Homo sapiens: one gene and its partners. The protein of the gene in region 3 purifies or fractionates together with the protein of the main gene of each other region. This does not show direct contact. Each region holds a gene or a part of one and is shown on either strand. Other genes may lie near its edges. The genes, in order: SLC35F2, SLC19A2 and KDSR.

The links.
Region 1: the proteins of KDSR (region 3) and SLC35F2 purify together in Homo sapiens (affinity purification with mass spectrometry; 2 studies listed by BioGRID and IntAct, with this or other methods). This does not show direct contact.
Region 2: the proteins of KDSR (region 3) and SLC19A2 purify together in Homo sapiens (affinity purification with mass spectrometry; 2 studies listed by BioGRID and IntAct, with this or other methods). This does not show direct contact.

Annotation. Positions count from the first base shown.
Region 1 is NC_000011.10:107,856,710-107,860,459, reverse strand, and holds the start of SLC35F2 (solute carrier family 35 member F2), read left to right. Parts: upstream 1-1,672; 5' UTR 1,673-1,692; coding exon 1,693-1,802; intron 1,803-1,880; exon of another isoform or gene 1,881-1,959; intron 1,960-3,750.
Region 2 is NC_000001.11:169,472,231-169,475,980, forward strand, and holds part of SLC19A2 (thiamine transporter 1), read right to left. Parts: intron 1-3,750. UniProt on the Homo sapiens protein: High-affinity transporter for the intake of thiamine. Mediates H(+)-dependent pyridoxine transport.
Region 3 is NC_000018.10:63,365,076-63,368,825, reverse strand, and holds the start of KDSR (3-ketodihydrosphingosine reductase), read left to right. Parts: upstream 1-1,619; 5' UTR 1,620-1,707; coding exon 1,708-1,815; intron 1,816-1,825; exon of another isoform or gene 1,826-2,576; intron 2,577-3,696; exon of another isoform or gene 3,697-3,750.

The DNA of each region.
Region 1 (3,750 bases), on a different chromosome or scaffold from region 3:
GATTTCGCCATGTTGGTCAGGCTGGTCTCGAACTCCTGACCTCAGGAGTAATCCGCCCGCTTCGGTCTCCCAAAGCACTGGGATTACAGGCGTCAGCCACCGCGCCCGGCCTAGGAAGGTTTCTTAATTGTCATTACTTTCCAGGAGCACAGGGCTCAGGTAGAATTCAACGTTGTCAATATGCAGGGTTAAATGAGTTGTTTACTTTACAAAAGTGACATCTTAAATGTGCTTCTAATGTCCTCTTGTTTCATAATATGCTTGTATTATAATACTTAATTAGTCTCTACGGATGACCACGTTCTTAGTTTCAAAGGTTTTTTTGAGGTTCCTGCAGCTGCTAAACTTGGGGTTCCTGAAGTAATATTTCATTTTCGAAAGCTGTTTTTTTTCTTAGACTCCTCTTACAGAATTGCCAGCTCGTCTGCACAGCCTGTCTATTTGAACCTACGTTTATTTTGACCCACCCCAACCCCCAAAGCAGGTGGCCAGGAAAAAATAAAAGGTCCCAACACCTTTTCTTTTGTTTTCTGGATCTCCTCCTTTCCGGAAGCAGGGGGTCAGTGACAGGAACTTTTCGACCCCAGCTTAGTGTCTCTTAATCCCTCTTTAGCCCGTGGAAGCCTCGGAAGGCGTGGCCAGGGCAGGGCATCCAAGCCGAGCGCCGGGGGTTGGCACCGTCTCTCTCCCTGGCACGGCGGAGACAACTGAATACTGAAAGACAAAACCAACACACCGCGAGGAATGAGCCACGCCTCCATCCACGCCACAAAGGCACGTTTCCAAGATCTTTTTAGGATCTTACCCATGTTTTGCAGGGAAAAGCGACACAGACCTGAAGCGCCTTCAGGTTTTTTTTTTTTTTTTTTTTTTTTTTAAGACGACGTCTCCCTCTGTTGCCCAGGCTGGAGTGCAAAGGCGCGATCTTGGCTCACAACCGCCGCCTCCTGGGTTCAAGCGATTCTCCTGCCTCAGCCTCTCGAGTAGCTGGGACTACAGGCACCCGTCACCACGCCCGGCTAATTTTTGTATTTTTAGTAGAGACGGGGTTTCACCATATTTCCCAGTCTGGTCTCGAACTCCTGACCTCAGGTGATCCACCCGTCTCGGCCTCCCAAAGCGTTGGGATTACAGGTGTGAGCCAACGCGCCCTGCCAGCCTTCAGTTATTTTAATGAAGCGATTTTGTACAAATCAGCCAGAGGGAGGGAGAGTGGGAGGGAAGAGGAGGGGTCAGCCAGTCCTTCCAGTTAGGAGAGTCCCGGCTCACTCACTGCTTCTAACTCACTGCTCACTCACCGCTTCTTAGCTTAGGAATCACCTACAATAACCTCGTGTCACTGTATCTTGTGATTTCAAACAAGGAACCCTAAAAACCTGAAGGCACACTGGGTGCCGCTCAACAATAAGGCTCGGCTGCCAAGACGAAAAAAAAATTGCCCTTTCTCCTCCTGCCACCCTGGAGGTGCCAGGTTGTAATCTGCAAATGTATTGTCTGGCCCTTAGGGCTTGACAGTTAATGATTGGTCGCTGAAGGAGCCGAGCGGAGGAGCGAGAGGGACGCGAGCAAGCGAGCGAGGGAGGGAGCGCAGGGCCAGAGCGGAGCCCCAGCCGGCCGCACAGGCACCGCCTCCCGTCTTCCGGGACCCGGCACTTCGGGGGTTTTGGGCGCCGGAGACGCGCAAGGGCGCCGATGGAGGCAGACTCGCCAGCGGGCCCCGGCGCCCCAGAGCCCCTCGCGGAGGGAGCGGCGGCCGAGTTCTCCAGCCTGCTGCGCAGGATAAAAGGCAAACTCTTCACCTGGTGAGTGGAAGGGGCGTGCTGCAGCTCCGCTGGGGCGTGGGGGCGGCTGCGGGCCCTGCGCGCACGTGGACAAGGAGCACACTCTCTGAGGCCCCCAGCAGGGAGGCAGAGGTGGCGGCCGCACGGACTTCGGTTCGGGGCTCAACACGCACACCAGGTATGGTGCGCTTCACCTGGCGTCGGGAAGCACTTGGTGCGTCTCCCTCGGCTCCCGTTTCGAAATCGTGGCGATGTATTTTGGAGGATTTGGGGGGAAACCCACCCTGTGGCACTATTAGGTCGGTCCTCTGGGGCGTTCCGCGGTGGAGGGACGAGGTCCCCGGGGATGCTGTGAAGGAGGAGTGCCCACCTCGGGCTGGGCAGGTGGGTGAGCGCCACTTCCTGGCGCCGGCGCCCTCATTCCATCTGCTGCCGAGCCAGCCAGACTGGGCGCGGTGATTCAAGAGTTGACCGAAGTGAGAAATCCTGGTTAAGTTTTGTGCTGCTGCCGGGTGGGAGACCAGAGCCGGCTCTCTCTTCCTGGGCCTGAGCGAGGTGATATAGCCACCCCCAGGGCTGGGGTCCAGGGAAGCCTGTTTGTGGTATCACTATGCTCTGTGCGAAGTAGGGACAAATGTTTTTAAGGAGTGGGCAGCGACTCTAGAAAGCGTTTCTGTGGTTGCTGGAGGACTTGCACTCTGGAAATGAGAGAACCCAGGACCTAAATAGTGAAAGACATTTATTGGGCACTCGCTCTGTGTCAGGTACTGTGCATAACAATTTATATGGATAATATCAGCTAATCCTCACCACTTTAGGAGATGGTACTATTGTTATATCCACTTTGCCGCTGGAGAAACAAAGAAGGCTAAGCAATTTGCCCAAGGCCACAAGATGATCTTTAAGGGGTGATGCGTTCAAGCCGTAGTCTAAACAGCGTTGGCCACTGACAACTCATGAAACAGATATTTGATTTTTTTTTCATATTAACAAAGCGAATTTCCCTTTAACGATTGTGAAAGATAGTCCTGAAAAGCCATACCATTTTAAAAACGAGATCGATAAAGGTGTAAGCATTTTTTATCATATAAATAGTTTGAAATTGATGCATGTGTTTAAAGGGGAAAGTTGGCCGAAAACCACCTTGTAGCATCCAGTTGTGTATGTCCTGATACATTTGTTAAAAGTTCTCAGCTGGGAGGCAATTCAGTGTAATGGCTAAGGGCACTCACATTCTGGACTCAAATCCTGGCTGGGTGACCTTGGACAAGTCAGTTCTCTGTGCTCCAGTTCCCTCCCTTCCCTCCCTCTCTCCCTCTCTCCTTCCTTCCTTCCCTCTCTCTCCTTCCTTCCTTCCTTCCCTCTCTCCTTCCTTCGTTCCCTCTCTCCTTCCTTCCGTCCTTCCTTCCACAAGTCAGTTATCTGTACTCCAGTTCCCTCCCTCCCTCCCTCCCTCCTTCTTTGTTCCTTCCTTCCGTCCGTGTCCGTCCGTCTTGGACAAGTCACTTAACTTCTCTGTGCTCCAGTCTCCCTCCCTCCCTTCCTTCCTCCCTTCCTTCCTCCCTTCCTTCTGCTGGGTGACCTTGGACAAATCAGTTCTCTGTGCTCCAGTTCCCTCCCTCCGCCCCTCCCTTCCTTCCTGCCTTCCTTCCTTCCTGGACAAGTCACTTCTCTGTGCTTCAGTCTCCCTCCCTCCCTTCCTTCTTGGACAAGTCACTTAACTTCTCTGTGCTCCAGTCTCCTTCCCTCTTTTCCCTCCCTCCCTCCCTCCCTTCCTTCCTTCCCTCCCTCCCTTCCTTCCTTCCTGCCTTCCTTCCTTCCTTCCTGGACAAGTCACTTCTCTGTGCTCCGGTCTCCCTCTCTCCCTCCCTCCCTCCCTTCTTGGACAAGTCACTTAACTTCTCTGTGCTCCAGTCTCCCTCCCTCTTTTCTCTCCCTCCCTCCCTCCCTCCTGACGGAGTCTCATTCT
Region 2 (3,750 bases), on a different chromosome or scaffold from region 3:
TTATTCAAGGTCCACCAGTTTTATTGAACTACATCAGAATTTTACTATTTAGCTTCAGTTGCTTAACCAATATAACTTGGAAAACAACTGGGATATCTAAAACTTTCAAGGATGCTGGAAGGATTATAAGAAAAGAAAGTATATTCCTGGAAGAATGGAACTATTAAAAGGATTCACAAGTTTCTATTAGAAATCCTACCATAAACTGATAAGAAAGCCTTACTTTTCTCATCTAGAAAATGAAAATGATAACAATAAAACCTATCCACAAAAGATTATACAGAGTTACACTAGATAATGTATATATTTATTATAGAGGGGCTCAATTAGTGTTATTTTTATTGCATAGCTTAAAAAGTCATGGCATACATAAAATAATGCCCAGTATAATGCATTTGAGAACTTTAGATCTATTACATAATAATGAATTCCACACACAGAGGTTAATAACTACTCAATCTATTATCTGGCCATGCCAAAAAGAAAAGATGGCAGGTCCTGTTTATAAAATCAGCACCTCGTGCTATAATCTGCAGGCTTCCTTCTATGCTGTTTTCTAGGCTTCAAATGTTAAGCTTATATGAATCACACTTTATAAAGTAGCATTTGACATATTACCTTTTATGTTTCTTGTTAAATTACATCTACAAACAAAGGTTTATTTCTATTACATCAAAACTCTGAGCTGCTCATAGTTAATCATGCATGCTCTAATTTAATAAGTGGCCTTCACTGTGTTCCATGGAGCTTTAAGAGTTTCATGTGGGATGAATAACAGGCTCAAGTATGTAAAATTATCAGACCTGCATTCCTGTTTCAATCAGAAAGGCTCAATTTTTATTTACTTATCATAACGGGCATCTAGTTTCAGATTTCATTTGAACATAAGATTTTGACGCTGTTTTATAAATTTAAAAATCTTTAACAATTACTTCCCTCTATCAGGGAATGGAAGTTTCTACTGTAGTGGTGGTTTTTGAGTCAACTAGATATGGGTGGAAATTTTATTTATTTATTTATTTTTTTGAGACAGAGTCTCTGTTGCCCAGGCTAGAGTACAGTGGCACTATCTCAGCCCACTGCAACCTCTGCCTCCCGGGTTAAAGCAACTCTCCTGCCTCAGCCTCCCAAGTAGCTGGGATTACAGGCATGCACCACCACGCCCAGCTAGTTTTTGTATTTTTTTTTTTTTTTTAGCAGACATCGTGTTTCACTATGTTGGCAAGGCTCGTCTCGAACTCCTGACCTCAAGTGATCTGCCTGCCTTGCCCACCCAAAGTGCTGGGATTACAGGTGTGAGTCACCATGCCCAGCCTGAGTTGGAAAGTTTTAAAGTGCCACTTCCTATGTGCCTTTGCGCAAGTCAGTTAACTAAATTTAGTTTCCTCTTCTGTAAAATGAGCAAATATCTACATTATTGAGTTTTAATAAGAATCAAATAACATACTGACTCTAAAGTTCTTAGCACAGTATCTGATACCCAGGTCAAAATAAACAGGAGGTGTGATGATGATGATGATGAAGATGACCAGGGGTGATTAATTCAAAGAGAAAAGGAAAGATTGCTCTATTTACAACCTCACAAATACATGACTATCTACCATAAAAGTACAGAGCTGTTCCGGATTATTCACGTGTAATGATAATGATAATAGTAATAATAGCAATTACCATTTATTGGAAACCTACTATGTAAACTCATTTGAAAGCTTTAAATACTCAAAATAACTGTATAAGGTAGATATGTACATAAGGAAACTAAATCTCACAGAATTAAGTAACTTGCCCAAGTATTAGAACTAGGGTTTGGACTTCACTTTCTTAAAAACTCACAATGAATGAAGCGAATAGATTTTCGTTCATTTTGGTTCTCAGGGTTTATTGTAGTTTTTTATTTTTATGGGTTTTGGTGAGGGAGGTAGGTGGTAACTCACTACACCCTGCTGCTAGAAATGACATTATTTAATACCAAAGTGGAAGCATTAATTTCACTGTTGTCATTGTTTAGAGACCTTAGACATGCAGACACAGAAAGAACACTTACTAGTAGTAAAAGATATCAAACTACAAATAAAAGCATGGCTATATTAAGAGAATCATTTACTAGGTATTAATTACATGTCAGAACCTGTGCTAAAGAAGTGGTTTAATTTATGTCATTTCTAATAGATGAAGAACTCAAAATAAATCAGTTTCACCAATCAGCCAACTACATAATGAATCCAGCTCTGCTTGTAAAAGAAAGTCACCAGCTTTGGTTCTTCTTTCTGCAAGATCAGCACCCTTTGCCCCAATGCAATAGACTCTCTTTAAAAATAACTCACAAATACTCTAAGGTAACTTGTAGAATGAGCTATCACTTAGACTCCTCTTACTTCATTTTCTCTTTCTATAAAAATCAAGATAAAACCACCTACCTACCTACTCTTCAATAATTACCACAATTATAATTTATGGTTTAATTATAGGTCTTGTCAACTTAAAATAGCTCTGTGATCCCTAATATCCATATTCTGAATTTTCTTCATGCTTGCCAAAGAAAAACAGCAGCATTTTAGGGCCAGTCAGTGCCAATACCAAGCAGCACTGCCCATCTGCTATGGTATCAGTAGCAGAGCCTAGGATATCAGGGAACTGACTTGAATCCTAATTCTGAAAACAGTGTAACTGACATGATGGTTCTGACATTGTTACCCCAGTTAAAAGACTTCACCGAGAAAGGTTTAGAAAGAACTGGATCTCATACACACTTTTAAATTATGTTCAAGAGTATATTTGTACAATTCTGCATAAGTTGCTAATCTCTGATCCTAATCCTTATCTCTAAAAGGACAGTCTTGATGAAATCTAATCTCTTTTTAAAATGCTCTGCTTTTTCTATGACTTGTGATTAGAGTCATTTCTAACTCTAAAATTCTACAATTCTTCAGTATATAAAATACTGACACACTGTGTATCTATAAACAAGTATTTCAAGTTGATCTAGAACAGTTTTTAAAACTATAGGTCATCACCCATAAGTTGGCAATAAAATTGATTTAGAGGACAGTGAACTGAATTTAAAAAAAATAAAAGAATGTATCAGAATAAAACACTGTTGTAAAACTTGTTTCTGTTATATATAAAATATATACATACCTATGTATGTACAGGTTTTCTATGTAAAATGTTTTCTATGTTTCTTACTTATATTCAAAAAAGTTTGAAACTGTCTATAAAAATCTTTAGAACTATGGTCAATATGTTAATATCTAAAATATATATTTATACACATATTATCTGTATATACGTTAATTTTAGCTAAAGCCACTGTAACACATTCAAAACAGATAAAGAAGTGTCTTTATTTTTTTTCCACTTCATAAAATCTATGAAATGATTACACACCTCCTTCCCTCCCCCATCAACCCTCTGTTGACTCTCTAATATCACCTAACAAACTATGAAAAAAATCAGCATTTCATTGCCACTTAATCCTTGGTCATTCTGACAAAAAGTGCTCACAGGTGCCCTGGTAATCAAGGTGAGTTTCATGATGAGGGTTGCCCAGGCTCTACAAGTCTACCCAGGCTCTCTGGGATGATAACCTAAATTTCAAGTAGTAATTTGAGAGCTGAAGAACGGGGATAGAGAAAAGAGAGTAATTTTCAATGAGGACATTAGATGCCACATTTAAACAATTCAGTTAACTCTCAGTAGAGAATGAAAGACTTTACTCATAATGGTTCTTTATTATCAGCCAGCCTACAA
Region 3 (3,750 bases):
TAGTTAAACATAGAGTTGCCGTAAGATGTAGCAACTCCCCTACTAGGCATGTACCCAAGAGAAATGAAACATAATGCCCACACAAAAACCGGTAAATGAATATTTACAGTTAGCATAATTCTAATAGTCAAAAAGTGGAAACAACCTAAATATTCCTCAATTGATGAATGGAAAATTAAAATGTCGTATAGTCATACAATGGGATATTATTTGGCAATAAAAATAAATGAAGTATTAACATGTAGTACTTCATATCATGGATGAACCTTGAAAACATTACAGTAAGTGAAAGATAGGATGAAAAAGGCTACATATTATATGATTCCATTTATGTGAAATATCCCGAATAGGCAAGATTATAGAGACAGAAACATGAGGGATTGCTTAGGCTTGGGCGGGGCTTGGGAGGAAATGGGTCGTGACTGCCAATGAGTATAGGATTTTGGGGGGTTGTGACAAAAATGTTCTAAAATTTATGGTAGTGATGGGTCTACAACTGTGACTATATTAAAGACAATTTATTATAAGCTTTATTTATTTATTTATTTTTGAGACGGAGTCTTGATCTGTCACCCAGGCTGGAGTGCAGTGGCGCGATCTCACCGCAATCTCTGCCTCCCGGGTTCAAGCGATTCTCCTGCCTCAGCCTCCAGGGTAGCTGGGATTACAAGCATACGCCACCATGCCCGGGTGATTTTTTGTATTTTTAGTAGAGACGGGGGTTTCACCATCATGGCCAGGCTGGTCTCGAACTCCAGACCTGAAGAGATCCGCCCGCCTCAGCCTCCCAAAGGTCGGGGATTACAGGCGCGAGCTACCTCGCCCGGCCTATTACGCACGTTAAATCGGGAATTGTATGGTATAGTACGTGAATGAGACCTTAATAAAGCTGAGTTGTTTGCGTTATTTATTTGTTTTGAACCTGCTTGGTAAAGATGAACTCTGAACTCAATGAAATTGAATTACCTTAGTGATTCCTCAAAACTCCCTGTTAAGGCTTTCCGGTCCTCTGAAAAGCGAAAGTGGGCCGTGACCATCTTCTAAAAACGCCAAAAAATATGGAATGGAGCCCGGGATTTCAGAGCGTAGTCGCTGGGCTCCCAGGCTGAGCCCGCTCCGGGAGCCTCCAGCCGCCCTTTCCGATGCTCCGGGGCCTCCGAGCAACCCAGCGGGCAGTCCCAAGCCGAGGGCTGAACTCCAGGGAGGAGCGCTCGTCACGCCCACACTGGAGGCCGTGGCAGGCCTGGAAACCCGCCCTGCGGGGTCCTAAGAAGCCATTCGAGCTCCCGAAGAGCGAGTCTTCGCAGCCCTTCCCGGCGCGCTCGCATCTGGCGCTGTCCGGAGCCCGCTCGCGACGCACAGGGACGGGAGGCCCGGTTTCCACGGGAGAGGCTGCGGACTGCGGGCCCCGTCCCGAGGCCGGGGGAGTGGGAGACACCCGGCGACCCCCGAGAGGCGATTCTGGCAGTGGTGGCGGTGGCGGTGGCGGTGGCGGCCTACTCGCCCCCTGGAAGCACCGCCCCGCCTGGGTGGCGCGCGCGCCGGCTCCTCCTCTTCCCCTCCGCCGCGGCCCGCCCCGGCCCGCAAACCCAAACACTCCAGGCGCCCGCCCGCCGCGCGTGATTCTCGCCTCGCCGCAGCCCAGCCCTGCGCGCCTTGCCCGGCGGCCCCCGCCCGGCCGCTCCGGGCCCCTGGCCCCGCGGAGCGATGCTGCTGCTGGCTGCCGCCTTCCTCGTGGCCTTCGTGCTGCTGCTGTACATGGTGTCTCCGCTCATCAGCCCCAAGCCCCTCGCCCTGCCCGGGGCGCATGTGGTGGTGAGTGGCCTCCTGTTGCTGCCCCCCGACTTACCGGCCCGCGCGGCCTTTCCGCCGCCGAGGCCGCGTAGCCTACGTCCCTTTTTCCAGGCCGCGGTCCCCAGGAAGGCATGGCCAAATGGGGAAGGTCACCTGCCGCCGTCCACCCCGGCGCTTTTCCCCCGGCCCCGGCACCCGGCCTCGCGGACCCGCCCTCCGCAGCCTCGGGCTCCTCCTAGGGCCGGAGAGCGTGCGACGGGGGACCCCGCCGGCCGCAGGGTTCCCGGGGCCCCAGGGGTTCTGTGGCTGCTCGTGAATCCATGCAACATCCCTGGGATGTGGATGTTTTGTCCTCAGTTTTTCCGATGAGTCAACTGAGGCACAGAGAGGCTGAGAAACTTTGCCAAGGACACAGCGGTCGGTGGTGTGCAGGGTGCGGCGCGCGGCCCCGGGCGGGGGCAGACAGCGGGGAAGTGGGGTCCCAGCCGCCGGGACCCGCCGAGGCAGCTCGGAACTGGAAGATGGCCTGTGCGAGTGACGGGAAGAGCCGCTGCCAGAGGATTCCAGGAAGTGACTCACCTGGGGAAACTGCTCAGAACCCAGCGGGCTGGCGGTGGTGGCTTAGCGGTATTGGGACGCCTGTCCCGTCTACACTGCTTGTCTCTGAGCTCAGCGTGGCATCTGCTGATTGCTGCTCCAATGCAATCCTTTGCTGTTTTCTAGTGGGAAGGATGAGCTAAACGACAAGGCTTGTGTGCGAGGAATGAAGGAGAGGTGGATAGGTGTGATTTATTTCTTGGCGGAAGCTCGCATATTCAGCGATCCCTGTTCTGCAAATGTGGCACCTTTCTTAAACAGAGAGAATGCCTCCTTGCCTGCGCCCAGCACTTTCCCGTTTGCAGTGGCTTTCTCACGAGCATTCTCGTTTGGATCTCCCAAACCCGAGGCACAGTGAGGCGAGGAGTTAGGAGTAAGGAGGGTTGGTTACAAAATTGGCCGCACACCTCTTCCTGTCCTATCTCTGCACCGGAGATCCGAGCCTCCCCGCTGAGCTGGTATAAAATAAGATGGTCGTTTTTCTTAGTATGCTTTAAATCTGTACAAGGGTTTGTGAATGAGAAAATGTATCTGTTTAATTTCTCCTTTGTAAAGCTATTAGCTTTTTCCAACACCTCCTGTTCCTAATGGGGAAAGAGTGTGGATTCATTACAAAAAATAAATAAGAGAAAGGCAAAACTTGACACTCTAAATTCTGAAAGTTTTACATCCGCAAGAGAACTGCTGCCTCAAAAGCGTGGCTTTAAACCTTGGATCCTTTCAGAGCTTGAGTTTATAGAGCATAACTTTGCAAAAACTAAAGCTAAACGCAGAATGAAAATTGGAATTCCTTATTTGTAAGACAGTTTCACTGAGCCTTGACTCCAGTCCTTCCAGCCCCATCCCGCGGCAGGTCATAGGTGAGATAATAAATGCTGTGTCTGTTCAGGTGGACCAAGAAGAATTTATTTTTACCATCCCGCTTTAATACGCAGGATTATTATTTCACACTCTAAGTAATGTGAGAATGACATGAATAGTTCACATGGTGTCACCATCTGTCTTCTTTTTTAATGTCATAAGAAGAGTGAAAAGTGTAATTGTTCTTGAGATTTGTTAGGAGTTGACTGTGGTATTGTTGGGAGAGGGAGCTGATGGTTAAACTGTCTGCCCATACATAATTAAGAACAAACTTATAACAATTGTTTCATTTTTAAAACAATTTTATATACTAGTGTTTTCTATCTAGTTACGGTAGTAAAATTGCAGGAAAAAAGCAGAAAATCACCCACCTCAGCCTCCGAAAGTGCTGGGATTACAGGCGCGAGCCATCGCGCCCGGCCAACAACAGCTATATTTTTACAGTAATCTGCTGATAACTGGCTGATTACCGACCAAATAAATCTCTTCAGTGGTGGC